3 separate regions of the Homo sapiens genome follow, and all the other regions are linked to region 2. Evidence: fine-mapped expression QTL. A gene starts in region 2. Each other region holds a variant in brackets. All regions are shown on one strand. Distances are from middle to middle. Region 1 overlaps STYK1 (serine/threonine/tyrosine kinase 1). Region 2 holds the start of STYK1 (serine/threonine/tyrosine kinase 1). Region 3 overlaps STYK1 (serine/threonine/tyrosine kinase 1).

What was found. PIP is the estimated chance that this variant, and not a neighbour inherited with it, causes the effect. A credible set is the group of variants that fine-mapping cannot tell apart.
Region 1: its variant is the best candidate, but not a certain one, in a credible set for the expression of STYK1 in nucleus accumbens (GTEx, PIP 0.62).
Region 3: its variant is the best candidate, but not a certain one, in a credible set for the expression of STYK1 in whole blood (INTERVAL, PIP 0.78).

Annotation. Positions count from the first base shown.
Region 1 is chr12:10,615,548-10,626,236 of GRCh38, forward strand. It overlaps STYK1 (serine/threonine/tyrosine kinase 1), which reads right to left. Exons shown (of 11, transcript NM_018423.3): 8 at 9,104-9,312; 9 at 7,091-7,131; 10 at 6,329-6,425; 11 at 3,376-4,801. The coding sequence ends at 4,597. Among named protein-coding and RNA genes, the nearest start is that of MAGOHB, 7.3 kb to the left of the region's middle. The variant G/T (reference allele first, on the strand shown) is at 5,623.
Region 2 is chr12:10,668,158-10,678,846 of GRCh38, forward strand. It overlaps STYK1 (serine/threonine/tyrosine kinase 1), which reads right to left and starts at 5,895. Exons shown (of 11, transcript NM_018423.3): 1 at 5,809-5,895.
Region 3 is chr12:10,630,302-10,640,990 of GRCh38, forward strand. It overlaps STYK1 (serine/threonine/tyrosine kinase 1), which reads right to left. Exons shown (of 11, transcript NM_018423.3): 2 at 6,770-6,895; 3 at 4,266-4,385; 4 at 3,689-3,823; 5 at 744-1,007. The coding sequence starts at 4,317. Among named protein-coding and RNA genes, the nearest start is that of MAGOHB, 22 kb to the left of the region's middle. The variant GTC/G (reference allele first, on the strand shown) is at 4,947.

The sequences.
Region 1 (10,689 bases), 53 kb before region 2:
AAGGTTCAAGTAGAATGACTAAAAAGGCAAATTGGGCCACGTTTCCTTGAGTCCATATTAGTAGTTATATAACTATTAATATAGAAAAATGAATCAGTCCCTACAATGGGCCACCATTTTGGAAAGTACGTAAGAAACAGGAAGCACCATGTTTTACCACTAGGGTGACTAGCCGTTCCAGTTTGACCAGGACTGTGGAGTTTCCTGGGAAATGGGACTTTCCATACCTGGAAACACCCAGGCAAACTGAGATGGGTTGGTCACCACACTTACCACAAGAATAATTCACAGAAATTTGAACACTCTATTCCGTAGTATCTCTGGAAATATCAGCTGTAATCCATTTTGTTGAATTATATGGAAAGCCTCATTCAATATCTTAGATTCCCTAATGTCTCTCCTTCAGGTTTTTGGCACATGTGCCAATGTTCATCTTCATGTTTACCTAAATAGAACTATGGATACCAGAATGTGTAACTATATAAATAGAGGTTACAGAATGCACAAAGTATTAACATCTTTGTTAAGTGGGCCAGTTACTGTCTTGATCTCCAAAAATGACATAGGGGTTCAAGACTATAATCCTACCTGTTTGTAAGATAAAATATGAAACTATATTTACTTAACTCTCTATATTTTAAGCCAAAATTTGAACCTTTTGTATTGAAGCAAGAATTACAAAGTGATAAAGCATTTGCGTTGTGTTGTATTCTTGGATGGTACACAACAGTGATGTGGAAATGTTCTTCTGTATGGCTGCTGAGCCCTTGAAATGTGACTACTGTGACTTCGAACTGAATTCTTAATTGTGATTAATTTAGATTAACATTTAAATAAACACATGTGGCTAGAAGCTACTGTGTTGGTCAGCACAGTTAGAATCTTTTCATACACTTTTAGTTGGGCTAGAAATAGCAAAAAAAAAATTGTGAACATTTTCAAATTGCTTGTTGTAGGCTCCAAATTAGGACGTACTTACTGATATCAACACAGTTTACTTATGAAAATAAATATTTGAGCTGCTTAAGTGAAGCCAAAATACTGTTTCCACCTTTGCTAACACAGCGGTAAATTTCAAAGCACAAAGTGAAGTAGGTAAGAAATAAACGTTTTATTTCCATCTGAAATTAGGGCTTAATGATCAAATCATTCTGACTTCCAATTTTCAGAAACATGTTCCATGTTTATTGTGATAAGCACTAGGTATTATAGTCTCATGTTTTTAATTTATGAATAACGTCTGATTCATTTGATTTTGTATTTACAGAAGAAAAGATGTCAGGGCTATCTCATTCAGTTATTAATAAATGGATCAGAGTAGTAAGTCAAGAATAAGTGCATAATGTGGTTTAAATTTTAAAAAATACTCAGAATGAGGTAGTATTTTAATTTTTAATTCATCCACCCACCTTGCTCTTCTCTTTTCCATAATAGACTTCCCTGTGGACGTTAGCCTTATCTGTCTTTTTACCACTTAGTGGTATTAACTTTTTAAGTAAGAGAATCATGATCATGCAGAAACACCAAACTTTCCACACCATTCGTTATCACATATGTTCATATATGGCGAGAACTTGGAGCTACTTCTAGATTACCATGACATGATATATTTAATTCGATTGTTCAATCTAAAATTTTTTTCCAGCAAATGACAATATTATATGCTTCAAACACATAGCATAATCTCTAACTCTTTTCCCCAAAACGGGTAAACACAGTATGCTAAATTAAGGGTAATAGGATATCTTCCAGTCTTCCACTGTATTTGCTACTTATTTATTTCAGTAAGAGTGTTAAAGCAAAATTTAAAAAAATTATTGCAACAGAGTTAAGATTAAGAAATCTTAATTAACTGACTTTTTTTGTTTTAAAATGCTAAAAAAAAACCCACTACTATTATTTGATTTTAATAACAGAATACCTAAATCTGGCATAAAAAAACATAGTGTGCTCCATAAGCATAATTTAAGAACTACTGGTTCAGACTATTCTATTTTAAACGACGTTACCAAGTTTCCCTTAGACACTGTATCTAGGTGGGTGTTTGCGTTGTTCCTAAGTGTTGGAATTTTTTTTTAACAATAAAGCATAGATTGGAAAAACAAGACTGGAAGAGAAGGCAATCAAAACAATACAACAAAATCTATCTAGAGTCAACCCGATTAAATGATAAATATTTTGATTCTTTTTTTCATTCATTAGCTTGGAAACACCTAGTTTGGCTGAAAGGTCAATGATGCCAGAAATATCATCCTCCTTCTGGAAGAAGCCTGGCCAAGTGAGAGAAAGACCCAGTTTTCTTAGAGTAAAAATTACTGTATCCAGTTTTCCGGGCCGGAAAAACAAATAAAATTGGGGGTAAAAAACTTAAATATCAATTGTCTGCTTCTTTCCCTCCTACTAAAAGAAATATGACAGTACAACAAAGCAACCTTCCATTTCACTGTGTTCCACTTTCCCTTAGCTCACCGTGCTGCAACCCATATGCTTTCTTGCAGTTCCTTGCCTCAGAATTTTCACGCACACATGTCCTCCTCCTGGGAGACTCTTCTTATTCGGCCTGGGTTACTTACCCATCCCTAAGGTCTCAGTTTATAGCCCATTTCTGTTCAGGGAAGTGTTCCTTTTAAACTCCCTTCTACTACCCTATGCTTTTTCTTTATAGCACTTAACACTTCGCACTTAACAGATACCCACACAAATAAATGTATAATGTGTCTCACCTTCTAGACTGTAATCAAAAGCTCCCTATTTCTTTTATCCTACACCTAGCCAAGTGTCTGGCACAGCAAGCCTTAACACTCAATATTTTTCAGTGATCAGATAAATAAGTAAATATTTGTAATTTTGACTTAACTGAACAGCTGAGAGGCAACAATGGGATTCCATAGGACTTTGTAATTTTGTGTGAAGCCACTCTTCTGCCCTTCTCCCTACTGCAACTTGCTACCCATTTAAATCCTGACTAGTCATTGTGGTATTCTTACAGCGGCAAGAATCATTATTCCTTTAGCTGACTCATTATGATTCCATCAGGATTCCAACTTCTACAACATTTTTAGCTGCCAGTCATTTTTCTTATGGCAGCCTTAGATGTCCCTTCCAGGGTACCCAAAGTGTTTTTTAAAATTGCAGACTACCATGTTCAACAGAATTGCCCTCATGATGATGTTTTCAATATTTTGTAATAGTAGGAGTCCACTATCATCATCCAAAAGCGTACAAAAATGATGACTTCATCATTGCACATGTATAATATCACTACTTGTGCCATATCATCATCTTTAGGCATGTCCTGCCTTGCAGTGTTAGCGACTGAGTTTCTCTTCTTGGTCACAGTAGATTTTAAATGAAAAATATATGAAAGGTCCTGGGTTAGGAAGGGCAAAAGAAAAGGAGAAACACGTTTATTGAGCGCATATGTGCCAGATAGTGTACAAATACATACTCAAAACGTATCAATCCTCAGAACAACCTTGTGAAATAGGTATTATCCCCATTTACACATAAAGAATCCCTTTTCTGACATTGTACATTATCTCTTGAATTTTTCTATTGGCATTAACTTTCACTTATTTACTTTTATCCTCCCTATGATATTTTTAGTAGTTATAAACCAGAAAAGCATATTTCCATTTAATAAATATTAATTTAATAAAATAAGTTTCACAGTATATCAACAGATGATTGAAAATTAGAAGCTGCTATCCTTCCATATCAGATTACATTCTTTTCTAGCCCTTGTTAAAGACTGAGCTACTAAGCCTTCTTGCTTGGTTTCTACATTTCCTATTTATTGTGCACACACACACACACACACACAGAATTCTTTTCACTGTTCTAACATTGACTCTCTAGGCTTAGTCTCCTTAGTCTAATCGGAACTAGGAAGCTAGCTTAATGAACAATACATGTTGAATGTTCTTAATCATGAAATGACTCCTCCACCTTCTAATTAAACGTAGTAACAAACAGAATTTACCTGTCTCAGAATCAGATAAAAGGGGACCATCTTTCTTTTATCTATACCTAAGGTGAAACTCAGAGGTTTTTCCGTTATAGTTCTCCTCCAACCCCACATGTAGGGCTCAGGACTGAAGAACTTTGTGTCCTACCACCTTTTCTTGAAGGAGGTGTTGGTCCATATCTGTAATCCTGAGCAAGAAGAACCTTAAATTTTCTTTCCCTTCAACTCTTTTATTGGATTTCTATTCCTTCATTTCATTCCAAATTTTCATCTAGATAAAAATGTGGTTCCAGAGGAAACTAGCCTCGGACGGGAGGGATGAGCTTATTTGTGCCATGCCCCAACAAATACTGCAGAGTTCTAAAACCTCCTTTGCACAGGTCCACCACTTCTACCCAGGATTTCTAGGACTGGGACAGCAGAAGTGAGACTGACAGTATGTCTTAGCTCAGGATGTGTAGAGTCCCATCCAGCATCATTTCAGATTTCCCGAGAAATGTGTAAAGGAAGATCAAGAATCCATGTCCCATTTCTCCCTTTGTGTCCCTGGGAAAGACCATTCTCTGTTCTTAGAGGAATTGATTCCAAGAACATATACTCATGCATGAATGTTTCTTGCCCGAGACTCTTCAAAGCATGCTATAGTTGTAGAAGAGGCTCTCCACTCTGATGCCGGCCACAGCTGCATACAGTTCAGGTACCACCAACTCTGGTACTTGTAACACAGCCTCGTCATCTGCAGTTTTAATGGCAGCTTCTAGGCGCAAGCGCAGCTCTCTAGGTGAGGGGCGGTCAGCCTCACGCCAGCGCCAGCAGGACTTCATGATACTGTACCTGAGAGGGAAACAAGAGAAACTGACTTCCTTGACAAGGCAAATGTATGGGGAGCATGTCTCCTCTCCTCACAAACTTTAACAAACAACTCTGCAATTCTTTAATTGTCTTCTGTTTGCCCTGTTACTCATATTCTTCCCAGAGAGTGATATTCCTTCTCAATCTTTTTATATCAAGTCTCTTAATAGCACTTTCTCAACAAGTGCTCTTGTATAATAGGAATGACTTAACATTTTCCAAACTAGGGTATGACAGGACAGTTTTATCACTACATATTGTTTGCTGTAACGTTGTAAGCATTGTGCAGTAAAGTAACAGGGCTGGGTAGAAATGAACACATGTCATTTTTACTCTGATATGAGACGGAGCTTTTAATCATGTATACTGCTGCATACTTTAGGTTGATTTTCATGTTTCAGATATCTCCTCATCAAAATGTTATGTTCTTTAATACTTGTGCCTAGAAGCTGCTGCTAGAATTGCAGATGACAAGGCTGTGTTACAAGTACCAGAGGTTGTGGTACCAGGTCAGGTATTTTGTCAGTTAGGTGTCTTTCCCAGTATTAAGACCAGCCTTTAACACATAGAAATGTTTGTCATCAATTTTTTTCTATTGTACCTAGCTCCATCACTATATTCTGTGCGTGTGTGTGTATGTGTATACTCATATATAATTAAGATACTTAAATTTAATCTGCTTGATGCAGTAATTATTTATCATAAGGAAAACCAAGTGCTGTAAATTTACCCATTCAATGATAAAAAACTTACAAAATAGCAACAATTCTAATAAAAACATTAATATATTCTCTGCTGCCTCC[G/T]TATACACAATTTAACCTTTTCTTACATTCTACAGCAGTTCCTTTTTGAACTTCATTGGTAATAACAGTCTATGTAATTTTTTATTTTTCCATTTCCTGCCTCTAGGTTGGTTCACTAACTGTCCCAATCTGCTGACAATATTGGATCCTCCTTCTGCCTTTCTAATTTCTTCTTATCTCCCCTTCCTCTGGTTGGCTTCTATCACACTGAGAGTTGGAAAAACAGGGAGACAGTCATTTAAAAGTTAAATACTAAATAAGAACTGGTATACTCTGAATGAGTAACTCTAGTGCAATGGCTTTTATGACAGCTGTCTGAACTGTGGCTGGCAGAAGACTGACATTTAGACTAAACACAACTATACTTGCATTGGGTTTAGTTTACTTGTTACCTATTTTAGAAGCTTCCCATGGAACTAAACTATAATAAAATTAGATTCCTGATATAGTTCTCAGCGTGTGGTGGGGGTATGTGTGTGTATGTGTGTGAGTATGTGTGAGTGTGTGTATGTATATGTATATATAATATATATGCATATATAATATATGAGATAGGTATATTTTACTGCATGGGTTTGGTTAAAAGCTGTACATGGGTACATATACACAGGTGAGGATCATCTGAGCCCTTTGAAAAGGGCACGATTGATAGAGGGCTAAACAACATTTGGAATGAAAGAGGAGCAGGCCTTTAAAAACCACTTACATGGTATGTGTGCAGCTACTGGGTCTCTTCATGATTTTCCTTCTTTGGAGATGCTCTAGGATGCTGGTAGGAGGGACTTCAGGATACGGTGGTGCTCCTGTCATTACGAAAATAATGAGAACTTTAAGGTCCTCTAAAATATGAACTGTAACTAACACTATTCTTCATCCACTTGGGTTGGTTGCTTGCAAAAGATATAGCCATAGGAAAAATACTACATACAATTCAGTTGCTCCCTGGTGATCAAATATGGATATAATTTAGTGAATTGGGGGGAAAGGTGTTTTGGAGAAAAAAACCTGATAAGTTAGGAGAATCTTGAATCTCTAAGAAAGTGATCAAATAAGACAAAGTAAGACATAAGACCTGTCCTCCACTCTCCATACATGGGAAAGTGTGCAGTTTCTCAGTCAAATGAATTAATAAGTCTGGAGTAAACATTTTTATGTTTATGCAAGACCACTCTGGGAATTATCCTTGGGATTTGAAAACATCCCTTGGATTTGGTAATATTTTGGGGAAAATAAAGAGGAAGAGAGCAAAAGAAAGGTAAAAAAGGACAGGGAAGAAGGGACTGGGGCAAGGAGAAAATAATCACTTTATATGACTATCACGGGAATCAGGCTTAGATAACATGTCAGTCCATTTCAAGCTTCAGCACTGTACTGAAACCCTTTCAGAAAGCATACATCATCCACCCCTTAAATAAACACGCTTGCATATTTGCATACAGGTACACACTATTTTGGGGCTCATCCTTACCTAGAGTCACCATCTCATAGAGCAGGATCCCAAAAGACCAGCTGTAAAAGAAACAAAGCCATCTATTTAATTTCTATTTCTGTTTTTCTAAAGAGAGCTCATTTAAGTGTCAGAAGCCTTTAATAAGAGCCCCATGAAAAAGGCAATGAAGGAGAATCAAGGATGAGTGTCTGAAAAACAAAATAACAGCCATTAGAAAGCATTTCTGCTCAATTTCCATAGGTTCGAATCTCTTTTAAGATTGAAATTATATCTCTATTTACTCTCCTGTGTTTTAAATTAATAGATGTTTGTTATTATTTGCAAATGTGTGTGCATGTAACCACACAAACACATTTACCTCAATCACAAAAGCACATTTACCTAAAAATATTCCCTCTGTGTCTCTTTCTTCCTTTCCATCCCTCTCTGCTGAAATTCTTGCCTTTATTCTTAGCACAAATTCAACCAAGTTTTATCATTTAGTCACTATTTTCTCAGTAGATTTAATTGCCCAAACCTAGGAAAAATATTAACAGGGCAAGCTTTATATATAGTTGAAATAGGTATTTGCCTAAGCAATATGACTTGAGAGGTGTATAGTTCACTATTCTGTAATATCATTATTGAATGATTAATATTTTACAGTTAAGTTTATTACCCCCAGATGTCTATTGAAAAGCAGATGTCAGTGAAGCAACAATGGAAATCTCATAACTGACTCATCATATTAACTGATATTCTAAATTTCCTCTGCTGCTCATGGCATTCATGGCTAGCAGGATATTCTACATTACATCAATGCACTTCTCCAAGCAATTGAGTTATATGGCTACCAAAAGTCAATTGTGATTCTTTATGATCCTGTTAATGCCAATTTTACATGTAATTGCAATTATATGTAGTTATATAATCAATTAGGTATTTTATATATGGATTAAATGCAAAAAAGTGTTATCTTCCTTCAAACAAAGTTTGAAGGAAGTTGAATGTTTTGAAAACTAAGTTGAATGTTTTGAAAATGATTTATAAAAATAAACTGCTGAAAAAGAAAGTCTTGTCAAATTGTGTGAGGGAGACAACTTAGAAAATTGGGAAAAGTAACATCAAAAGTCTGCAGTCAAACAATTTCACAATTATTTTCAGGTTTCTCATGCTACCTAAAATCATTCTGAACTGGAACTCAAAAATAAATCATTTTTATTTACACTAAAAGATACTATTTACACTAAAAGAACAACGTGTAACTTCATTTGGGAAACTCATCCTTATAAAAAGAAGCCTTGCCCCTCCTTGAAAAAAACAGATAATGTACATTTATAAGTTTTATGTTAAAATAAGTTATTGAAGGTATGTATATTTCTTTTTATTTTAACAATGTATGGGTTAACTGGCCTTTTGGTTATTCCTTCAGATAAAACAGACTTTACTAGATTAAGTCCTCAGATATTGATGTGAATAATCTTTTCACTTTTTTTTTTTCTAATTAAGGCTGCTAATCTAATACAGAAGAAATACTTGAGGCTGGGCATGGTTGCTCATGCCTGTAATCCCAGCACTTTGGGAGGCGAAGGTGAGAGGATCACTTGAGCCCAGAACTTCTAGACCAGCCTAGGCAACATGGTGAACCTTGTCTCTAAAAAAAAAAGAAAAAAAAAATAGCCAAGCAGGGTGGTGCATGCCTGTAGTCCTAGCTTCTAGGGAGGCTGAGGTGGGAGGATCGCTTGAGCCTGGGTGGTGGAGGCTGCAGTGAGCTGTGATCATGCCACTTCACTTCAGCCTGGGCAACACAGTGAGATCCTGTCTTAGAAAAGAAAAGAAGAAAAGAAAAGAAAAAGTTGAAAAAGTACCAAAAAGGATTGCAGACAGATGACAAACATGAACTCTGTCACATAACATTTCTGCTTGAGAGTATGTCTGATTTCTAAGTAGAGATTATATTCGTATACAGAATTGGCAACAGATCAAATCATATTCAGGGACAACACCCAAGTCATGAAGAAAGTAAACTCAGAGTCCAGGAATAAACCGTACACATCTGCTCTGATGCTAGCAGGTCTCAGGAGAAGCCGTTCTGGGGCAAGCCACTTGAGAGGTATGGTTTGAGTAGAGGAGATGGCCCCTCGGGTGTAAACTTCATAAGCCAGGCCTAATCCACAGAGCTTAGCAGTGAGATCACTTTGCATCAGAATATTCCTGGCTGCCACATCCCCATGGAACAAATGCTTCTCCTGCAGGAATTCCTGTCAAGATAAAATCAAATATGATCAGCTGTCTGAGATCACAGCTTGGGTCACAGACAAGGAGAGGCAGTCCTAGGAATCTTCAAAAACACAAGGACATTTTCTACTCTGAACAAGTCTCACTAATAATGATATGTCACTTCCAAAGCATGCTAATGAACTGCACATTTCTGCATTGTGTTTAGGATTACCAAATTGAGCAAATAATTCAAATGACATTAATACTGGATTTTGAAAATATAATCACCTCTGTTTCAAACACTGACCCCTGCCTGATTTTCGTTTCCCGTGAGAAAGGACCCAGCTAGACACTGGAAAAGGGAGTAGATTCCAAGTTTCTTTCTTTTTTTGTTTGTTTGTTTGTTTGTTTGTTTGTTTGAGACAGTCTCGCTCTGTCACCCAGGCTGGAGTGCAGTGGCGGGATCTCAGCTCACTGCAAGCTCCGCCTCCTGGGTTCATGCCATTCTTCTGCCTCAGCCTCCCAAGTAGCTGGGACTACAGGCACCCGCCACCACGCCTGGCTAATTTTTTGTATTTTTAGTAGAGACGGGGTTTCACCATGTTAGCCAGGATGGTCTCGATTTCCTGACCTTGTGATCTGCCCTCCTCGGCCTCCCAAAGTGCTGGGATTACAGGCATGAGCCACTGCACCCGGCCTGATTCCAAGTTTCTAGCAGTAGTCCTCAAAACAATGTAATACGTACCAAAATTGAGTATCATAATGAAAAATGTATATACATATCTCACTTTTTCCCCTAAAATAACTGCATGGGTTGAATTCAGAAATTTTCTTTTAGATAAATCTAAATGATTACAAAAGGCCACAGAGTTATTAAGCAGTAGTGACCAGAACCAGGTATTATAATTCATAGGATGTACTATATAAACTCTACTAAAAATTTTCAAGTCAGTCTGCATATTGGAATTGCCTGAGAGCTTTTTAAACATAAGATTTTCACCCCAGATTTAATAAACCAAAATGTAGGAAGAAAGACCTGGTAACCGACATTTTTAAGATGTATCAAATTCTAGTACAGCCAACAGAGCATCGGAGAGCCATGGCACCCTATGATAATTGATTTTTGGAGTAATTTCCAATGGCATCAACCTATTCAAGGCATAAGAAGAAAGTTGCAAAACTATACATGACTGAAGATCTAGATATTGAGGGCTGTGATTACTAAAAAAGGATGGTATAGAAAATTAGAAGGTAAAGGTGATAATTTCCAATCACTGATGACAAAGAAAACTAGCAGTTTTCTGTGCCTGGTGAAGCTTTAAAATAAGAAATTATAGTGCCATGATAAGAATTAAAGAATGTAACTGACTTTGAGCTTGTTAAAAGTAAGAAAAAAATAGCATGATATTGCCTTGTAA
Region 2 (10,689 bases):
CCCAGTCAAACTCTACCCTCCATTTTTCAAAAGGAATAAAAATAATAATAAAACAACTAAGGACCCCTGAGGTAGGTGCCTTGCTGTTTGCTCACAAAGAGAGAACCAGAGCTTAAAACGGATTTCAGGTCCCCCGGACTGAGAGAGGACTCTGTCCACTCTACACTGTCTGTCTGTGTAATTTGCTGCTGCTGCTGCTGCTGTTTTTTCTTCTACTTCTTCTTCTTTTTTTTTTTAGACAGAGTTTCACTCTTGTTGCCTAGGCTGGAGTGCAGTGGTACGATCTTGGCTCACTGCAACCTCCGCCTCCCAGGTTCAAGCTAATCTCCTGCCTCAGCCTCCCGAGTAGCTGGGATTATAGGCACCTGTCACCACACCTGGCTTTTTTTTTTTTTTTTTTTTTTTTTTTGTATATTTACTAGAGATGGGGTTTCACCATGTTGGCAAAGCTGCTCTCGAACTCCTGACCTCAGGTGATCCGCCCGCCTCAGCCTCCCAAAGTGTTGGGATTACAGGTGTGAGCCACTGCACCCAGCCGTAATTAGCTTCTTTACCTTTGTGCACATTCGTTCCCTTCTACTTTCACTTTCTCCAGTTAGACACTATGCCAAGACATGATATCTAATACCCAACCTACTTATTCAGTACTTAACCAGTTTGCCTATTATTATCTGTTTCTTCCCAACAAGACTTTAATTTCCTGGAGAGCACAGTCAGCTTCTTTAGGTCCCTCATTAGCCCAGCCCAGAAGTAGGCACAGAACAGTAGCCACATCTAAATTCAGAAAGCATGTTGGAGAACTAGAGACTGGCTGAGCCTGGGCTGGTGGGGAGGACAAAAATGAACTGGCAAAGGAAGAAGAAAAAGCATGAAACCTTCATGGGAATAAAAGTTTAGGGACCAGCTATTTTGTTCATTGCTGTATCCCTAGCACCAAGAGCAGTGTCTGGCATATATCAGAATTCATATGATTGTTGAATAAATAAGTAGCTAATTCATCTATGAAAATAGCATTGGATCTGCAAGAAATTTTTATAGAAAAATAACCTATAGAAACTAATGGGGCATAAAGGATTAAGCTATAATACTAAAAGTACAAGGGGGAATGGGGAGTAGTTTTTAACAGTATATATAGCAAGTACATGGTACCCAGGTTTCTGTTCGATAGGGACACATTTTTTGTTCCATCATTAAGCAGGTTGTTTTTCTTCAGAAAAAAGATTTAAAGTTCTTTGCTTTCTATACACAGCAGGCAAAACATTGAGCCTTCAGAATAAAAATAGATAATATACTCAATAAAGAACACCATGTACAAAAATCAACTCAAAATGGATTAAAGACTTAAATGTAAGATCTGACACTGTGAAAGTACTAGAAGAGAACACAGAGAAAAGGTCCATCATATTAGGCTAGGCAATGTTTTTTTGGACATAAACCCAAAAGCACAGGCAACAAAAGCAAAAATAGACAAATGGGGTTACATCAAACTAAAAAATTTCTGCACAACCAAGGAAAAAATCAACAGAGTGAAGAGATAACCCATGGAATGGTAGAAATATCTGAGAAGTGATTAATATCCGGTAAGTGATTAATATCCAAAATACATAGGGAACTAAAACAATAGGGGGAAAACAAATAACTGTACTAAAAATGAACAAAGGACCTGAATAGACATTTCTCAAAAGAAGACACACAAATGACCAACACATATGTGAAAAAATATTCAACATCACTGATCATCAGGGAAAATGCAAGTTAAAACCAAAATGAGCTATTACCTCATACCTGTTAGAATAGCTATTATCGAAAAGATGAAAAATAAGTGTTGGAGAGGATATAGAGAAAGGGGAATGCTTGCACACTGTTGGTGGGAATGTAAATTAGTACAACCGTTAGGGAAACAGTATGAAAGTTCCTCAAAAAATTAAAAGTAAACTACTATATGATCCAGCAATCCCACTATTCGGTATACATCCAATAGTGATCTGACTTTTGTATATAATGTTCTTTATTCAGTATATTATCTTACTTTTATTCTGAAGGCTCAATGTTTTGCCTTCTGTGTATAGATAGCAAGAAAATGAAATCAGTGTGTCTGATTTCACATACTGCTGTCTGCACGCCATGTTTATTGCAGCATTGTTCACAATATCCAAGAGATGGAATCAATGTAAATGTCCATCAATGGATAAATGAATAAAGTATAAATACATACAGTATAAACACAATGAACTATTATTCAGCCTTTTGAAAAATGGAAATTGACAACATGGATGAACCCAGGAGATATTATGTTAAGTGAAATAAGCTAGGCACGAAAAGAAAAATATCATAGGAACTCACTTATATGTAGAATCTGAAAAAGTTGAACTCATAAAAGTAGAGAATAGAAAGATGGTTACCAGAGGTTGGGGGAATTCGAGGGGTTAGAAAGACGTCAAAGGATATGAAAGGGTATGACCTTATTCCTCCTTGTTAGGAGGAATAAGGTCAAGAGATCTATTGTACAACATGGTGGCTACAGTTAATAACTATGTATTGTATTCTTGAAAATTGCTAAGACAGTAGATGTTAAGTGTTCTCATCACAAAAATATGTGAAATAATACTATGTTAATTAGCTTAATTTAACTATTCCACAATATATACATATTTCAAAACAACATGTATATGATAAATATATATATAATTTTTAATTTTTTTAATTAAACATAAATTTTAAATATACATATAATAAAAATAAAGAATACCCAGTTGGGAAAGCTCAGGTACAGTAGGCAGAATAATGGCTTCCCAAAGATGTCCATGTCCTAATCTCCAGAACCTATGAATATATTGATTTTTTTTTTTTTTTTTTTTTTGACAGTCTGGCTCTGTCGCCCAGGCTGGAGTGCAGTGGCGCGACCTCAGCTCACTGCAAGCTCCGCCTCCTGGATTCACGCCATTCTCCTGCCTCAGCCTCTGATTAGCTGGGACTACAGGCGCCCGCCACCACGCCCAGCTAATTTTTTGTATTTTTAGTAGAGATGGGGTTTCACTTTGTTAGCCAGGATGGTCTCGATCTCCTGACCTCGTGATCCGCCCACCTCAGCCTCCCAAAGTGCTGGGATTAACAGGCGTGAGCCACCACGCCTGGCCATGTTGATTTTTAATAGCGTTGAAATAGCGAAGGGGAATTAAGGTTACAGATGGAATGAATCAACTGACCTTAAAATAGAAAGATTACCCTGGAATACTCAGTGAGTCCAGTGCAATTACAAGAATCCTTAAGTGTGAGAAAGGCAAAAGTGAGCGTCAGCATAAGACATGAGAAACACTTTACCGGCCATTCCTGGCTTTGAAGATGGAGGAAGGGTCCATGAGCCAAGGACTGTAGCAGCCTCTAGAGACTGAAGGAGGCAAGGAAATTGATTCTCCCTTAGAGCCTCCAAAAAGAACCATCCATTTGGAAACCTGCCCATCCATTTTTACTTCTGACCCCCAGAACTGTAAGATAAAACTTTATGTTGTTTAAAGCCACCACCATTGTGGTAATTTGTTACAGTGGCAACAGGAAATGTACACACTCAGGTTAAAAGAAAACAGAGCTGCAGAATCACATAACTCCTGGCAGATCTTCGGAGCACATGTTGGTTGGGACTGGTTGTGAGGGTTTGGGACAGGTGGGAAATAGTTTCTGCCAGAGAAAACTGAAATACATGCAATGCTCAACTAACTTGTGCATAATTAAAGACATTAGTTGTTAAAGGGTTGAACTGTACACCCTCTCAAAATTAATATGCTGACATTCTAACCCCCAGTAACTCATAATGTAACTTTATTGGGAGATGATAGTGCAGAGATAATCAATTAAAATGAGGTAATTAGGATGGACCCTAATCCAATAAGACTAGTGTCCTTATAAAAAGGGGAAATTCAGAGACATATATACAGGGAGAACACCATATAAACATCAAGACAGCCATCTACAAGCCAAAGAAAGAGGCCTGGAATAGATGCAGGCTTCATAACATGTTAGTTTTGGATAGCCAGCCTACTGAACTGTGAGAAAATCATTTCGTTGTTTAAGCCAGAGGTCACCAACACCCGGGGCGCCGACAGGTACGGGGTGCACAGCAGGAAATCAGAGGCAGGTGAGCCAGCAAAGCTTCATCTGCATTTACAGCCACTCCCCATCGCTGTCATTGCCTCCTGAGCTCCTCCTCCTGTCAGATAAGCCACGACATTAGATTTTCTTTCTTTTTCTTCCTCTTGTATTTTTGGTAGAGATGGGTTTCGCCAAGTTGCCCAGGCTGGTCTCAAACTCCTGAACTCAGGGCGATCCACCCACCAACTCCTCCTAAAGTGGTGTGATTACAGGTGTGAGCCACCGTGCCCACTAGCATTAGATTGTCATAGGAGCGTGAACCCTATTGTGAACTGCTCATGTGAGGGATATAGGTTGCGAACTCCTTATGAGACTCTAATGCCTGATGACGTAAGGTGGAACAGTTTCATTCTGAAACCATCTCCCGCCAACCTCATCGGCATCTGTGAAAAAAATTGTCTTCCACAAAATCAGTCCCTGGTGCCTGGTGCCAAAAGCCATGCAGTTTGTGGTACCTTGTTACAGCAGCCCTAGCAAACTCACACAGTAATGGAGGCACTGAACGAAAAAGTATATGATTTTCATTGAAGCAAATACTTCATGATGTCTCATTGAAAGACCTAGCTGCCCCCTAGCTAGCTGTCAGTGGAGATTCCGGTGCATTGAGGGGGAAAAACCAGGTAGACAGCACAGAGTTCTGTTTCCAGGTGTATTTCAGTTGAGCTGTGCTGCACATTACAGTAACTCGACTCCTTTATTGCCACTACTTCCCACCGAGTGGGAAGGAAGTGTGGTCTCATAGGTATAAGAAACTCCAATGTGGAGAGGACCCATTACAGAAGGAAGCAACAATCGCATAAATGAAAGAAAGAAAGGGGGGATGAAGGGTTGATAGAGAAAAATGAAAGAGGAAAAAAGACATTGAAAAGAAAACAGAGGCTAAAATGGTGAAACCCCGTCTCTACTAAAAATACAAAAAAATAAATAGCCGGCCGTGGTGGTGGGAGCCTGTAATCCCAGCTACTTGGGAGGCTGAGGCAGGAGAATCGCTTGAACCTGGGAGGCGGAGGTTGCAGTGAACCGAGATCGCGCCATTGCACTCCAGCCTGAGTGACAGAGCAAGACTCCCTCCCCCACTCCCCACCCCAAATAAAAAGAAGGAAAGAAAACAGAGATTCAGTCAACAAGGGATAGCACATCAGGCTGTACACTTTTAAAGCATGGTTATTGATATCTCATTTAAATATCGCAACAACCCTGGAAAGTAATTACCGTATTTATGCTTTGCAGATGAGGAAGCCGAAGCTGAAAGCAACGATTCCATGGTCTGAAAGGCTATGCAGTCCTCTGACAAGTAATTCCTGTAACCTCATTCTTTCCCTTCCCCCTCTCCTGATGGCCCCCTCTCCAGGAATAAACAGAGGTCCCCCATTCCTGGGTTTTCTCATGTTTCTCTCTGCACCAAATCTGCTGAGTCAGGTTTACTCCCTTATCATATAGAAACACAGAAGCCAAACCCCACAAGATGCTGGTTCCGAAGAAACACAGGTTAATTCACTTGGTGATTTCTGTTTGTTCACATAAACACCCGTTCCGCTCCCAGCCTCTTCCCTTTTTCTCCCTCCCCAACTGCAAAGTCCTCCCCCAGCTGCCTCGCTGCCATTCCCTTCCCACCTTCTTTACCCTCCCCGCCGCGCCCGCCCCCCATACCCCGTTCACTACCGTGTCCCTCCTCTGGTCACTCCGGTTTCCGATGGCACCGGCCCAGTCGGAGGGGAAATAATGACAGGGTTGGGTAGGGCAAGGTGTGCCAGCCTCAAGGAAATGCTTTTCAGTCCCTCCTTCCCACTGCGGGGCGTGGCTGCCGGCAAAGGATGGAGTTCGGGCGGGCTCCCGCGAAGGGAAGTCTGCGGGCTCCGAGGTTTCCGGGACTCGCCACACTCGAGCCACAGGAAACCTCTGCTGCAACTGTAAAGGCTGGACTTGTTGCTGATCTATACTCATTTCCTACTCTAGTGATTGCTAGATGTCAGGTATCACGGTGACTCCAGTCCAGGTGAAAACGGAGTCACGATACAGGGCAACAGCGCCACCTCACGGCCGGCCCCGTAGCAGCGGCCTCCATTGGCGCCTAAAAATGGTCAGGATTCACATTCAGGTGGATTATTCCGCGCCAGGAACATTCTCCACCTGAAGGCTTTGCCGGGGTGTTACAAGATAATACTGAAGGGACGGGAGTGGTGGCTTACGCCTGTAATCCCAGAACTTTGAGAGGCCAAGGCGGGTGGATCACCTGAGGTCAGCAGTTCGAGACCAGCCTGGCCAACGTGGCGAAACCCCGTCTCTACTAAAAATACAAAAATTAGGCGTGATGGCGGGCGCCTATAATCCCAGCTACTCAGGAGGCTGAAGCAGGAGAATCTCTTGAACCCAGGAGGCAGAGATCGCATAGAGCCGAGATTGTGCCACTGCATTGCAGCTTGGGCGACAGAGCAAGACTCCGTCTCAGAAAAAAAAAAAAAAAAAAGAAAAAAAAAAGTACTGACCACTGCGGAGACGTGGGGGAACCTATAAGGAATTAATGAGAATTAAAACCCCAAGATTACGTAATAGATCATTCATTTAGAGCCCGCGCGCGCGCGCGCGCGCACACACACACACACACACACACACACACATATATCCCATTATGTCCTGGGTTCTCCTCTGGGGAAACAGTGAACAAGGTAGTTATGTTACCCGTCCACATGGAAACTAAAATAATAGAAAATACTTAAGACAATAGATAGCTGAAGGAATTCTGTTAGATATTAACACCTAATACAAATTCAATTAAAGAAATAAGAGTCATAGGTAACTTGAATATGTGACCAATTTATTCAGCATTGAACGCATACCAAACACAAACTGACAGTCATTAGAGCAAAAAGAACTTGAGTCAATGTAATGTGGCATATTTAGAGATTGAGGTATGTCAGTTCTCTAGAGCTTTCTCTATTGGCATTTTCACTTCCTTCAGGGCTTTTTAAAAACAGGATGAATTGTACTTAATGCCACTGAACTGTTCATTTTTAAATGGCTAATGGTTGATTTTATGTTATGTGAATTTTACCTCAAAAGGGGAAAGGAAGACATCTCATCAGTTAGTTGTTCTTTAGATTCTTTATGTCATAAGTGATACATCAAATCCAAATGAACTGATTGGAACTTCATATTATGTAATTTTCTACTCTACCTCCCCAAGCATGCTCCTCCATGACAGATAAAGTGGTTTACTCATTTTTAAAATTTCTGCAATGTATTGCTAGATACTCATTCTGATGCACAGAATTTTGTCTAAAATCTAGTTACTATTATAGAAATAGAAGTTAAAAAAGAAACCAAAATACAATCCAGAAAGGGGAGGCAAAATTTTTCTCTCCAATTTTTTTGAGCAAATCACATAAATTATACATTAAAAACATTTTGAGTTAGAGAAAACACTGGAAATGATAATGCCCACACACAGAAACAACTAAGTACCAAATAGTCTGAGTTACACAGCAGACATTCACCAGGAGTTATATATGTATAGCTAGTCCCACACATTATACTCATTAATAAGATGGTTAGAATATCCATTATTTCTCTTTTTTCTTCAAGTTTTCATTCCCTTGTAATTTCAATTATTACCTCCATCTCAAATTTATAAGCCTCCAACTCATTGTCAACAATGCTTTGGCCCCAGTGTTTCTACCAGATCGTTATTTCTGCCTCATTATTAATTCCATAGGAATTTGTTGAATGCCCATTATCTCTCTGTCCAGATTAAGTACTGAACGGTAGTGGGAAGTCACACTGAAATATACACTGGAGATCTCTTCCTTCTCCAGTTTAGCCTACATGAATCCTAACTGCCAGATCCTGCGCTCCTCTAAACTGTTAAAGCCATCCATCCATGTGTTACTTAGTATATTCCCTCTTGTATGATTCTGCAGTTGTGAGGAAGGAATCTACTGGTTTAGTGGGGTGGAATCTATTTACGGAAGGCATGGAGGAATTCCTGGAAAGTCACTCATTATAAGAAAAAAGAAAATCAAAGCACAAAGGTATTTTCCACTAACAAGAATAGCTTGGGGTTCAGCGCTGGGTCTGCATCTCAATGTCCTTTGGCCAAGCCCGTATGCAATAACAGAGTCCTAGTGAGAGGGGACTCTCAAGTACAACTGGTAGAGTTATTTCACAGAAAAATACAACAGCAACAACAAAACCGTATGAGACCTTGTGTACACAAGGTAGCTTTGCTTTGGAACTGTTTTCAAGGGAATATAACACAAAAGCGGGGCAGGTGAATTCTTCCAACTTTATCTGGAAATGCAGTTCAACTTTCACAAAAGGGCAAGCAGTGGCTACCAGTAGGAGATAGCTCCACATGGGCCTGAGGCTTACCTGAAAGGCTTGCACTGGCACAGAGGATCAGAGTCACTCTGATGAAAATTATAAACAAAGTCAGCAGTAGAGTCACTGCTGCAGCAATGCCTGGCATGTAAATGGAGTTCCCAGGCATTTAGAGAACAATAGACATCACCAGAAGAAATCTAAGACAAGGAAAAGAGTGGATTCTATGTAGCCGCTAGGGTTTGGGATTGTGAAAATTTATGAGGTCCTCTACTATCTTGAGGATCTTCAGGGACAGTTGGGGAAAAGATCTTTTAAGAAACAACAGAGGTTCTGCAACCAACTAAAGGCGGCGACAGAGTATGGGAAATTACTATTCATATGACCTCATGTTTAACCCTGGTTGGTATACCCTAGAGAATATTGATCATTGGTAAGCTTCCATGTATATGTTGTTTCTTTTTACCTTATATATTAGTTTTCCATTGCTAACATAACACATTACCACACACTTAGTGGTCTAAACAACATAAATGTTTTATTTTACAGTTCTGTAAGTCAGAAGTCAACAAAATTCTATGTGGATTAAAATCAAGGTATTAGCAGGCCTGTATTCTTTTCTAGAGGTTCCTGGGAAGAATTTGTTTTCTTGCCTTTCCCAGCTTATAAAGGTCTCCCATATTCTTTGGTTGATAGCCTTTTTGATCCCCCCGTCTTCAGAGCCAACAGTGGCTGGTTGAGTCCTCTCACATCAGGTGTGTGTTTCTGTGACCCTTCTGTCATTGCTGTGTGTCCTGCTCTCTCTGACCACAGATCGGAAAGTTTCTCCACCTTTAAGGACTCACATGATGAGTAGATTGGGCCCACAGGATAATCTTCTTCTGTGAAGCTCCATTCACGTCTACAATGTCACTGTCGCCATTAAAGGTAGCATAATTGTTACCGGTGGAGGGTGTCCAGGTTCTTGGCGTTTTGAACCAAGAATTGGATGGACAAAAGGCACAAACAAGCAATGAAAGAAAATCACAGATTTATTAAAATAAAAGTACACTCCACAGACTGAGCAGGTTCGAGCAAGTGGCTCAAGAGCCTGGTTACAGAATTTTCTGGGGTTCAAATACTCTCTAGAGGTTTCCTGTTTGTTACTTGGTTTAAACCCTATGTAAATAAAGTAGTGGCCAGCAACCAGTCTGACTGGTGGTGCAAAATGACCAATTGGAGGCTGAAGTGAAGTTACAAATTTACACATGAAGACTTGGCCTGCAACCAGTCTGATTGGTTGCAGGAGGAGACCAATTGGAGGTCCTTTCATTTTTCATCTGCAACGGCAGAAAAGGGTGGAGGGGGGAGTTGCAAAGGAAGTAGCCTCTGATCGTTTTGTTACTTGGATGTGGAGAGGTGGGGTTTTCCTTTTGATTCAGTTCTAGGAAGTCAGAGCCAATCGGTCTTAGGTTTCCTGCCTTCAGACCCTGTTCTCCTGCCTCATAATCACAGGTTCTGAGGATTAGGGTGTGGACATATTTGGGGGCCATTATTCTGCCTACCACATATTGCTTGGAAGAGCTTGCGGTGTAAGGTCCATGTCTTACACCTCTTTGTAGTCTCTGTTTCCTGTAAATACTAAAAGATCAATAAATAAATAAAATAAAATAAAATAAAATAAAATAAAAAATAAATTTTAAAAAATGTTGTTGACCATAAAAACATATACCACTTGCCAACTACTTTTATTCTCCTCAAGAACATTCGTTCTCCCTATGGATTAAAAAAATGTGATAATTAAGGATATTATGTCAACCATTTGGGGCCACTCATTTTTTTCTTCTCGTTTTCCTTCTTTCCTCAGGATTCTCAAAGAATCATTCAGTTTAGCATGACTGTTAGCGATCACTGACCTACAGCTAGATTCCAGAGCTTGCATCAGCTTGAGCAAGTTGACCTTTCTGGGCCTCAGTTTTCTCGCTTGTAAAATGAAAAGGTTAGACTACATTAGCCTCAGGTTCTTGTCAGGGTTCATACTCTATGATCCTCTCATCATTGAATGCAAAATCTCATCTCCCCCTAACTCCCTCCTGCTAGAGCTATTGCACACTGTGGAACATCTCTAGCAGGTAGACATCCAGCTTTGTCTACAGTTCTTCAGTGCTGAGGACCGGCCAACAAGCAGCTTATTCCATTCATAACGCCTGGTTATCAGAAAGTTTGTTCTCACACTTAACCTCTCTA
Region 3 (10,689 bases), 38 kb before region 2:
CTTAAACCTGGGAGGCGGAGGTTGCAGGGAGCCCAGATGGCACCATTGCACTCTAGCCTGGTGACAAGAGCAACACTCTGTCTCAAAAAAAAAAAAAAAGAAAAAAGAAATATAATATCAGGAAGGGGTATCAAAGAATAAAGTAAAATGAGGAAACAACCTCAGAATCCTAGTACAAGTAACATCCATTGTGAAAAAATCTGTTTTAACAGCCTCAATAGGCAAAGATGAGCTAGGGAACCTAGGATGCAAAGAAGAGCTAGGGAATCTAGGATGCAAAGATGTTTTAACATATGCAAATCAATTCTGTGACATACCGCATTAACAGAATAAAGGATAAACATCATATGATCATTTCAATCAATGCAGAAAAGGCATTTGATAAAATCCAATATCCTTTCATGATAAAAACACTACACAAAGTACAGAAGGAATGTACCTCAACACAATAAAGACTGTGTAAAAACCCACAGCTAACATCTTACTCATCATAACATTATGCTTATTTGTAGTAGTCATTTTAGTTATTATTTGGAGATTGGGTAAGGATTCACAAATAAACAATTTGTGTAATTAAAAAAAAAGACACCAAGAAAAACATTTCTGCCTCAAGTTTCCACTCTATTACCTTCTTCTGTACACAGTTATGATCACAACTATCTGTTAGTTAACATCTCAATGTTCGCAAAGCCTGTTAATATTTACTGTTAGGGGAAGGGGGAGTCAAACACTTCTTGTTTTACCTTTTAAAGCCTTGAGAATAACACTCTTGGGCTTAGAAGGGTCCCCAGTGTTCATATTGGCTCGAAAGATGGGCCCACAGCTACCACTGCAAATCTGCTCCAGAACTTCAGAGAGTTGCTCCCGCGGCACCTGCAGCTTAGCCAGGGCAGGTGTGGTAGCTCCCAGAAAGTTTTCCACGGATGTCTCCTTAAGTGGCAAAGCCACATTTCCTCCATGTCCTGCTTCCCAGCTTAGGTCCCTAGGTGGAGGAACAGGGGCAATGCCTAGAACAGAGAGATGATGTCAACCAGTTTTTCCCCGCCCTGGGGATCCCGGAAAGCAGACCCTGAAACAAATTGGCAAGGAGGTTCCTTCAGCAGTTTTCTCTTTGGCCAATGGGGAGTTGTCTTCTGATGCTTCTCTATAAACCAGCATCAATGTCAAGTTTGTAGAACCTTTATAATAATCCCCATTAGTTCTTAGGACAACTCAAGAAGGACCCCAGGAAATCGGTCATGACACTTCCTTTCTGCCTTCCTTCCTCTGGGTTACAATTGAGTACTTCCCATGAGTGTGGTATGGAGACAATTAGGGAAGTTACTGAATAGGTATCCAAACCACAGATGCCTAAAGGTGGAGGTAACTGCCAGTGAGAACTGTCATTTAAATCAGACAAATGGCTTTCAACGTTGGAGGAAAGGTATGGATAATTAATCAGCTTTAAGCTATGGTTATTCTTCCTCCTTTGAGTTACCCCAAAAGTCAAGTTATTTCATATTTCCTTGAGTCTTGGTCAAAAAAGTCTTCTGGTACTCTCTCCTTCCCTTGGCCAGCAAAAAAGAGAGGTTCATCCTTCTTATTAAATCTACATTTATTCATTTATTCAACAAATATCACCTATTACATGCCAGGTACTGTTCTAAGTGCTGGGAACAGGAAAAGTCCAGATTCACCTGAAGATTACTTTCTACTGGTAGGGGAGAGGAAGCAGGTAATAATATATCAAGCAATTAATGTTGTGGAGGAAAATAAAAGATGGAGAAAAAGCTGAGTGTGATGCCATGAGCCTATAATCCCAGCTATTGGGGAGGCCAAAGCAGGAGGATCTCCTGAGCCCAGGAGATCCTGGGCTGAATTAACATTCAGCCTAAGCAACATAGCGAGACTCCATCTCTTTAAAAAAAAAACAAAAAAAGGTGGTGGGGAGAAGAAGCATCAGTGAATCAGTCACCTGTGTTATATATGAAGGTCAAGAAAGGCCTTTCTGATGAGATAACATTTGAGAAAGGCCTGGAAGCAACTAGGGAGCAAACCATGCTGGTGTCAGGGAGAGTATTGTAGGCAAAGAAAGCAAAAATTGCAAAAGCATTAAGCAGGGAGCATAGCTGCAATAGTTGAGAAATAGCCAGGAAGCCAGTGTAGCTGGAGCCAAGTGGGATCATTGGAGAGTAGTAGGAGACAAGGCCAGGGAGGCCCAGATCACATAAGGCCATGGAAAAAATTTTGTCATTTTTCATTCTGAGCAAGGTGGGAGGCTACTGCATGTGTGTGTGTGGAAGAGAGATTTCAAGCAGATAACTAACAGGACTGACTGTATTAAAAGACTCATTCTGGCATTTCTATAAAGGAGTAGGGGCAGAAGCAGGGAATGTTAAGAGTGTGTTGCAGTGATCAGTGAGATGTGAGAGTAACTTGGGTTTATTTTGAAAATAGGGTAACAGTGTTTGCTTATGGATTAGATACAGACTGTGAGAGAAAGAAAGGAGTTATCTTCAAGGTTTGAGACTGAAAACACAGTCTCAAACTGTGTTTCAAGGTTTGAGACTGATATCTTCAAGGTTTGAGACTGAAAACACAGAAGACAGGACTTGCCATTTACTAAGATAGGCAAGACTATTTGCGGAGGACATTTATGAGAGAATTTCAGGACCTTTGTTTTGGTCATATTACATATGAGATTTGTATTCCATTGAAACTGTGCAGTAGGTGGTTTAATATGAGAATTGAGTTCAAGGGACTATCATTGGAATAGAAAATGTATTTGAATCCATAAGACTAAAAATTATAGCATTTAGGAAGTGGCTTTAGTTTTTTCAGTATTTCAAGAAAGAGAAAGTTTAAAATTGTTTCAAATGCTTTTGACAGATCAAGTAAGACGAAGACTAAGAATTGATCATTGGACTTTTCAATGCAGCTGTCATTGATGACCTTGGAAAGACTTGTTTTGGCGAAGTGGTAGAGATGAAAACCTTATTTTAGTGTGTTCAAAAGAGAATGTGATGAGTAGAAGTAGTAGGAGTGAGTTTAGACAACTTGTTTGAGAAGTTTTCTATAAAAGTGAAGTATAAGACTATTGGGATAAAATTTAAAGAAAAACTAAGGATTAGCCACTATAGAGTTTCATATCATTATGAGAGTTTTCTTTTTCCTTCTTTTTACCCTGAGTTTCATCTGTGAATTGATTCCCTTTTATTATATGCTCAGTGGAACTCCAGAACAGACTGTTATCATCTACTTAGCACTTCAAAGACTGTTATAATATAAAGGCCCCTCCTTTCCATCATATATCCTGGAGGCAAAGATTAGGAATGGAACGTATCATAGGGTGATATGTCATCCTCCTAGGATGTTCATAAAGCCTTGGACTTTACCCCCTTAGGTCTTTCTCCTAGGTCCTTAGGCACTCATATAGTCAAAGTTTTGATAGTCCAACAGGAATAGAAACAGGTTATATGAGGTTTTTCTTGCACACTCTTTTTTCAGTCAGTAAGCACGTGTTGAATTCCAACTCGGGAATTCCTAGAAAAGAGATCATCCCCCTCTCAACTCCATGGGAGGGAACCCATGCCTCTCTCATTGCAGGTACCTAGACTTCTAGACATGGGCTCATTGAAACTTAGACCATACTTTTTCCTAATCTCCATCTTCTTTAAGCCCCTGCCCAGCCCCAAAGTTTGAGCTTTACCTTGAGGTCCAGAACGCTGCTGTTGAGTTCTTTGTTCTCTGATAAAAAGCCACAGGATGACCCCAAGAAGGATGAGGAAGATAGTAACCAACAAAGTTGGGACGATAATCACTTCATACTGCTTCTCCTGGATGACTGGGTAGGCGATCACACAGGAAGAGAAGAGAATGAAGAAGCCTAACCTGGTGTTCATGCAATTTCCCCTACCCGCCAGCTCTCAGCTCATCATACATGAAAAGGTCATCTCTTCTACCATCTCCTCTACTTCCATTCAACAGAAACACTGCTGGGAGCAACTCTCTAACCAGAAACCCCAGTGACTCTGTTTCTTAGCCCATCAAATGTGCATGACGTTGCTTCTGGCAGTTTCTTACCAAGATTGAAGATGCAGCATCTGGATCACTGATTAGCACTTACCCTCTCCCCAAAAAGACAATGGCCTCTAGTCCCCATCCTTTTATCACCACTGTCTTCATTTCTACTGGAAATCAAATCATCCTCCTTCTAGAATCTACCGAGACCTTAGCCTTCATAATTCTAAAATCAGAGGATAGACATCTGTGGAATCCGTACTTACCACACAACTTGTCACTGAGACTGCATTCCAGGAGCATCCGTGTCATGCCCATTGCCACAGGGCTGTCCCCTTCCCTGCTAGGCCCACAGAGAATGCACACAGCACAGCTGTGAGTAATTCCTAAGGATTGAGTGGTTTTTGAAAAAAATAAAATGAATGAAAAAAAATAAATGAAGTACACACAGAATTTTAAACCGCCTCTACAGATCACTAGTTAAGTAAATGGCTACCTCTCTGAGTCATCCGTTTATCTCTATCTACCTAGCTGATATTCAGGTTGGAAGAACCCTCCCAACCTTCTCTTCCTCTCAGCGTTTCTCTTTTCTCTATTATACAGCAAAGAGCTCTGATCTGCTCTTGTCCTTTCATTCAACTGTTACTGAAATTATTTTAAAGTCTCCCCTCCCACCCGAGACTTCTGCTCCCATGATCAAGTACAGATTCAAAACATCCATCTGAACTGTGATCCATGGGTTATGTGGGCATGATCTACCTCCCCTACAGTATTAAGCATGTCTAATATATTTTTTTTAGCTGTGCATCATATTTTTTAAGCAAAACATTTTTTGAAGTTGGGATCTTGCTCTGTAGCCAGGCTTGAGTGCAGTGGTGTGATCATGCATGGCTCATTTAAATCTCAAACTCTTGGGCTCAATTAATCCTCCTGCCTCAATCCCCTGA[GTC/G]TCTGGAATTACAGGCATGAGCTACCATTTCTAGCTCTAAAGAAAACATTTAATTTCATTTTTACACACAGTTAATTCAGATAACAAATAAAAAATTGACAGATGTCGAAGGATATGAGTTACACATTTGCTTTGTTTCTCTGAAATATCCACACCCTCACAAGCAGTGAACAGACAGCATTTATCAATAAAAACTATTTAATTCCTCATCCCTCAGAGCTTCAAGGTGCTTCCTCTGCTCATATCAGATATAGACACGGACACTCATTGCTACAAGGATATAAAGGAAGTATCAGTACCAAGCCACCTTCTCTTTCTCTTTTAAATAAAAAGAAAATACATTCATATGATTCAAAAAATAGTAGTGTAAAATTGTATAGCATAAAAATATTTCTCCCCCCCATTCTTCTCCATTTATCCAGTTCTTAACTCTCCTCCAGTCTCCTCCAAGTAGACTCTAGTTATTAGTTTCTTGTTTGTCTGGCAAGGGATTCTTTATGTGTATCACTGTTAAGTCTATATAATATAATCAGTACATATTTCAAATAACAGCCCTAGAAACTTGGTTCTTTCTTTCCAAAGAGAACTCATGTTTACCACTGTCCCATACCTCTCCTAAATTTATATTTTGCCTTTGCTTGACAAGACACTCCCATGGTTCTATAGTCAACAAAGCCTACTTCTTTAATTCTGATTAACTTGAAAGAAAATATGATTTTCTGCTAAATAAGTCTAAATATGTGATCCAGTTTTGTAGTGACTTGATAAAAACATAAAACAAAAATCAGAAGTATAGCTTATATAATATGCTACTATGTTGTACAGGTGTTACATTAGCCATATTATGCTGTCCTCTATCATTACATTATGCATTGTTTTTAATACTGATACTAATAACCACAGTGTTACTTACTGAGGCAGAATCTCTCAGTGCCTGAAAGACCTATGTAAAGAAGCCTCCCAGATTCTGCCTTACTTGTGTTCCACTCTTCCTGGAGCACCATGAACTTGTATATGGGTTTAATAGTTAAACAATTCCCTTACGACTCAAGAGAAACAAAACTGTGCAGTTGGTTGACAGAAGCTCAGGTAAACAGCCAAGTAGCCAGCGGGCGGAAAATTGGCACAGAAGAGGGAACTTCTTATCCTTATTCTTATTCTTAGAATGGGATCTAAGAAGTTGATGAATAGTTAGATAGCAAAGTCCACTGTATCCAGTGTGTAAACCAAAATGGCAAGGAGAAATGTGGCTGAGAAAGCTTCCACAATTCATGAGGCCACATGGAAGGACTAGCACTAGTGATGAAACTTTCAAAAAACAGACCTTAAGAGAGTGGCACAAAGGAGAAGTTCTGAAAAATAAAACGTTGGATCAGCACGGTGAATTCAGGAAGGCTATTAGAAAAGTGATCACTGCTATTATCATTCTTATTTTCCTTTCCTTTGCCTCCTTTTTAGTGGATTATCAGAAGTAATTGTTTTCATTCAGGGAGCAGCCAGTTTAACCAGTTTGGCTTTCTGAGGAGGAGGTTCTCAGCACACTCTCTCTTACCACAGCACAGGTGGAAAAAAGGGTCAGTCAGCAGCTAGCTCAGACTCATGAGCTCGGCCCAGAAAACAAACTACACACCCACTAATACATACTGAAGGGAGTCGTTTAAAGCCATGTGTACGTGTACCCCCACATGGGCACAGTGAACTGCTCACGGAGGGCCATCCATACTCAACTATAGGCACCTGGCCAAACACACAAATCCCTGATAACTCAAACTCATGCTTATATCCTTACACTAACTATCACACCTATTACAGAGCACTCACCTTTGGATGCAATATGGCCTGCTACTGCATTTCCTGAGCCAGGTTCTCACCATCACTTTTATTTGTACATAAGTAGTTTAAAGAGGCAAGGCTTATTGATATCTTGCAGCCCAGTGAAATTGGATGCTAGAGCAAGGAGATAAATGTATAGAATGATGAGGTCCACCCAATGAAATTGCTTTCCATATGTGTATACAATAAACCCTTTCTAATGGTTACAGTTTATTTAGGTAGAGGCATATGGAGTGTACCAGATGAGTCTAGGATTTTTTTTTTTTTTTTTTTGAGACGGGGTCTCACTCTGTCGCCCAGGCTGGAGTGCAGTGGCGTGATCTCTGCTCACTGCAAGCTCCACCTCCCAGGTTCATGCCATTCTCCTGCCTCAGCCTCCCAAGTAGCTGGGACTACAGGCACCCACCACCACGCACGCCCGGCTAATTTTCTGTATTTTTAGTAGAGAGGGGGTTTCACTGTGTTAGCCAGGATGGTCTCGATCTCCTGACCTCGTGATCCACCTGCCTTGGCCTCCCAAAGTGCTGGGATTACAGGCATGAGCCACTGCGCCTGGCCGAGTCTAGGATTTTTAAGGCATACACACTGGGCATACCCACATATCCATGAAAGCTAATGTGGGAAACCTCACCACACAGAGGCCACCAAAGCTCATACATCAGAGGATGCTTATATTTACTTGTAACAGCAATATTCCTCTCTAGATCACTTTTTAGCTTGAAATTCATACTCAGAAACCACATGGCTTTGCCTGTCCACTCTGTCAAGCTGAGAAAAGGCATGCCTTAATGCCAAAAACCTCTAGGATGACTCTTCGATGGGTTCAACTCTGGCCCACCTGACTACTAGAAGGACACTTCTGGCCAAGATTCCTGTTCAATCTGACCAATACTCCACTCCCTTTCATTATCTCTAAATACTTTTCCCACTATGTCAAAAAATATATGTAGGCTACTGCTTCTTCTCTTAGCTGAACTGTAAAGCATTATCCACAGTTCTCTATTTAATGTTATGAATAATGAAATCCATGGCATTGGAATCAAGGGTCTAGTGAAATTGTAATATATTTCATTCTGATAAATATGTTTGATAGTTGTAAAATATGTTTGTATATACTTTGCCTCTAGTTTACATAATCCTATATCTACAGAGCCAAATCTCTTCAGGCAGGGTTCTAGTTAGAACCATAATATTGCCTCACTTGTAGTTATCATTCCTTAATTTCTCTTATCAGTTGCTTCAGACTTTCTCTTAGCATGTTAAAGGTTTAACTCCCCTCTTTCATTGAGAATCCTGAGAAGAAACAGTGCAATGAAGGAGATACAAAAGGGAGGAGAATGAAAGTGAAATGAGGAGTAAAGTCCATGCTAAATCTTTACAAGACTATAGTCTGAAGACCATAAAAGCTCATGAATATAACTATAACGAAATTGAACTAAATAGTAATATTAATTCTAAACTTTTACACATACAATACAAGCATAGTGTCACACTGCATTTAGGCATCTATTTTAATTCACACTATATTCTATTTGCAACCATAACACAACTCTTAATAAGTGGCATTTCTTTTCAGTTAGCACAATACAGTCTCCCGGACACAATCTGCAATTTACCCATGACTTTCCAGAGTAAACTTTTCTTACCAAAATATACCTAGATATAAGACTTCTAAAATCAGATTTCCTGCACTCTGCCTGCTTATGTGTGATGAAAAATTCCATGATTGAACTCAGTATAACATCTGGCCCTGTTCCAGTAAGGTACAGTTAAATCTGTTGTGCCAGCCTCACCTTCAACCTTACTGCTTGCTTATCAACACATGTGGATCTTCCAGCCATGTTCTTTTTAGATAGACAAGTGATCCACCCTCCCAGGTGGCTGCCACATGGATCAAGGAAGTTATTAATGGCTTTGGGCTATGGGGCAGAGGACTCAAAGACTAAAAGTGAGGAGGGTAAAATATATGGAGGTAGCAGCCCCTAGCCTGAAACAGTCTGCCTTCTTGTATAGTTAGCGTTTCATTCTTACCCTTGAGCTATCTGGAAAAAAAACAAAAACAAAAAACAAAACCAAAACAAACAAAAAACATGTTTAATGGGCTGAATATATTAATTTGGAAGTGAGATAGAGAACAATGCTCAGATCTAGAGAATCTGAGAATTACTTGTTACCAACATCCTATGAAACAAGCTTCCGGTTTTCAGATCTAATAAACCTGTGTTTAGCAACTACAGTGTGCCAGGTATTGTGCTAGGCACTTTCATACAAAGAAGGCAAGGCAGAAACTGAGGGATTAAGTTATGAATTAGTGATTAAGTTATAAATTGGCCACTTTTTTTTTTTTTCTGATGGAGTCTCGCTGTTGTGGGCCCAGGCTGGAGTGCAATGGCGTGATCTCAGCTCACTGCAACCTCCGTCTCCCAGGTTCCAGCAATTCTCCTGCCTCAGCCTCCCAAATAGCTGGGATTACAGGTGCATGCCACCACACCCAGCTAATTTTTGTATTTTTAGTAGAGATGGGTTTTATCATGTTGGCCAGGCTGGTCTCGAACTCCTGACCTCAGGTTATCCACCTGACTTGGCCTCCCAAAGTACTGGGATTACAGGCGTGAGCCACTGTACCCCACCAAATTAGCCACTTTTTAAAAAAAAATGGCAGAGCAAGGTTGCACACCCAGGTCTTTTACTTACAAACCCAATGTTCTTTATACTACTTTGTTGTGCATATATACTTGTCTTTCAAATGAGAAAGACCAACAAGGTCAAGAAGGAATTACATTGGAATCCAAAAGAATCATGGAAACCACAAGGCTGAAACCAAATTTTACTAACATACACTCAATTTGGAAAGAATGGATGAATTGAATCTGCCTGTAAGGGTGTCCATATAGGAACCTCATAGGGACATAGATGACATCTGCATGTCTGTCTTTAAAGTATATTCTGAAAATAGAAGTAGAATCAGAATTTTTTTCCTAGTATTCACCAGATTATGTCATCTTGGGTTGTTTCCTTTGTTCATTTTCCTGGGTCTGATCCCCAATCCTATTTCTATCTTCTGCTTTTTGAGTAAAAAGTCCCGGTTCTTAGGACTAGCCATCTTTCACTGTGAGCATGAGGGTCAGAAAGAGGCCAGAAATTGCAGGGGACAGGGCACTGGCTTAGGAATTAGGGTCTTCATGCTGTCTCTCTCAGTGCCCCAGGCTCTACCGTTCTAGGGAAACAAACCAGTGAGAGGACACAGAGTGCATGGAAGGGCACACTGGAGAGGTGATTCTTTTTAAATCCAGAGAAGCGTATTTGTGTAGATAACTTGCCTTATGCCCTGTGATATCTCCTAGTGTGGGTGAGGCAGGGAGGAGGTTATCTAAGAGAGGTTATCTCGTCCTCTCACTCTTCTCAGATATTGAGAAATTGTGCTTATTTCTGATCTTTGCCCTCCCCCATTTCCTAGAGACCCAGGGATCGAAATGAACACTAGAGAAAGTGTTTCAAATGGGTTCTCAAAGGGGAACCCCTTTCCACCATGGTGCCTAGGAGTCCTGCGCCTGTTTCAACAGATCTTTTGACTCACTGGTACTCACCAAATTATGAAATCTGAGGGCTATCAGTTTTTCTTGCTTCTATTTTTACCTGTCTCCAGAGATTCCTGAAACATATGTGATATACAGTTGAGATGAGGAAGCTTAGTCTATATCCTGGTACCTCACAAAAGTTTACTTTGTAGAGGAGAAAAGTGATTGCAAGACAGGCCCCATAACATCTAGGTAAGAAATGCAGTGCTCACAGATGCTTACAAACAGCATCAGATTTTAAATATGGTTTCGCAGATAAACACATTTTATTTCCTTTGAGGTATTATACAAATTCAAAACAGTTTATTTTTATTATAATTATCTTGCTAT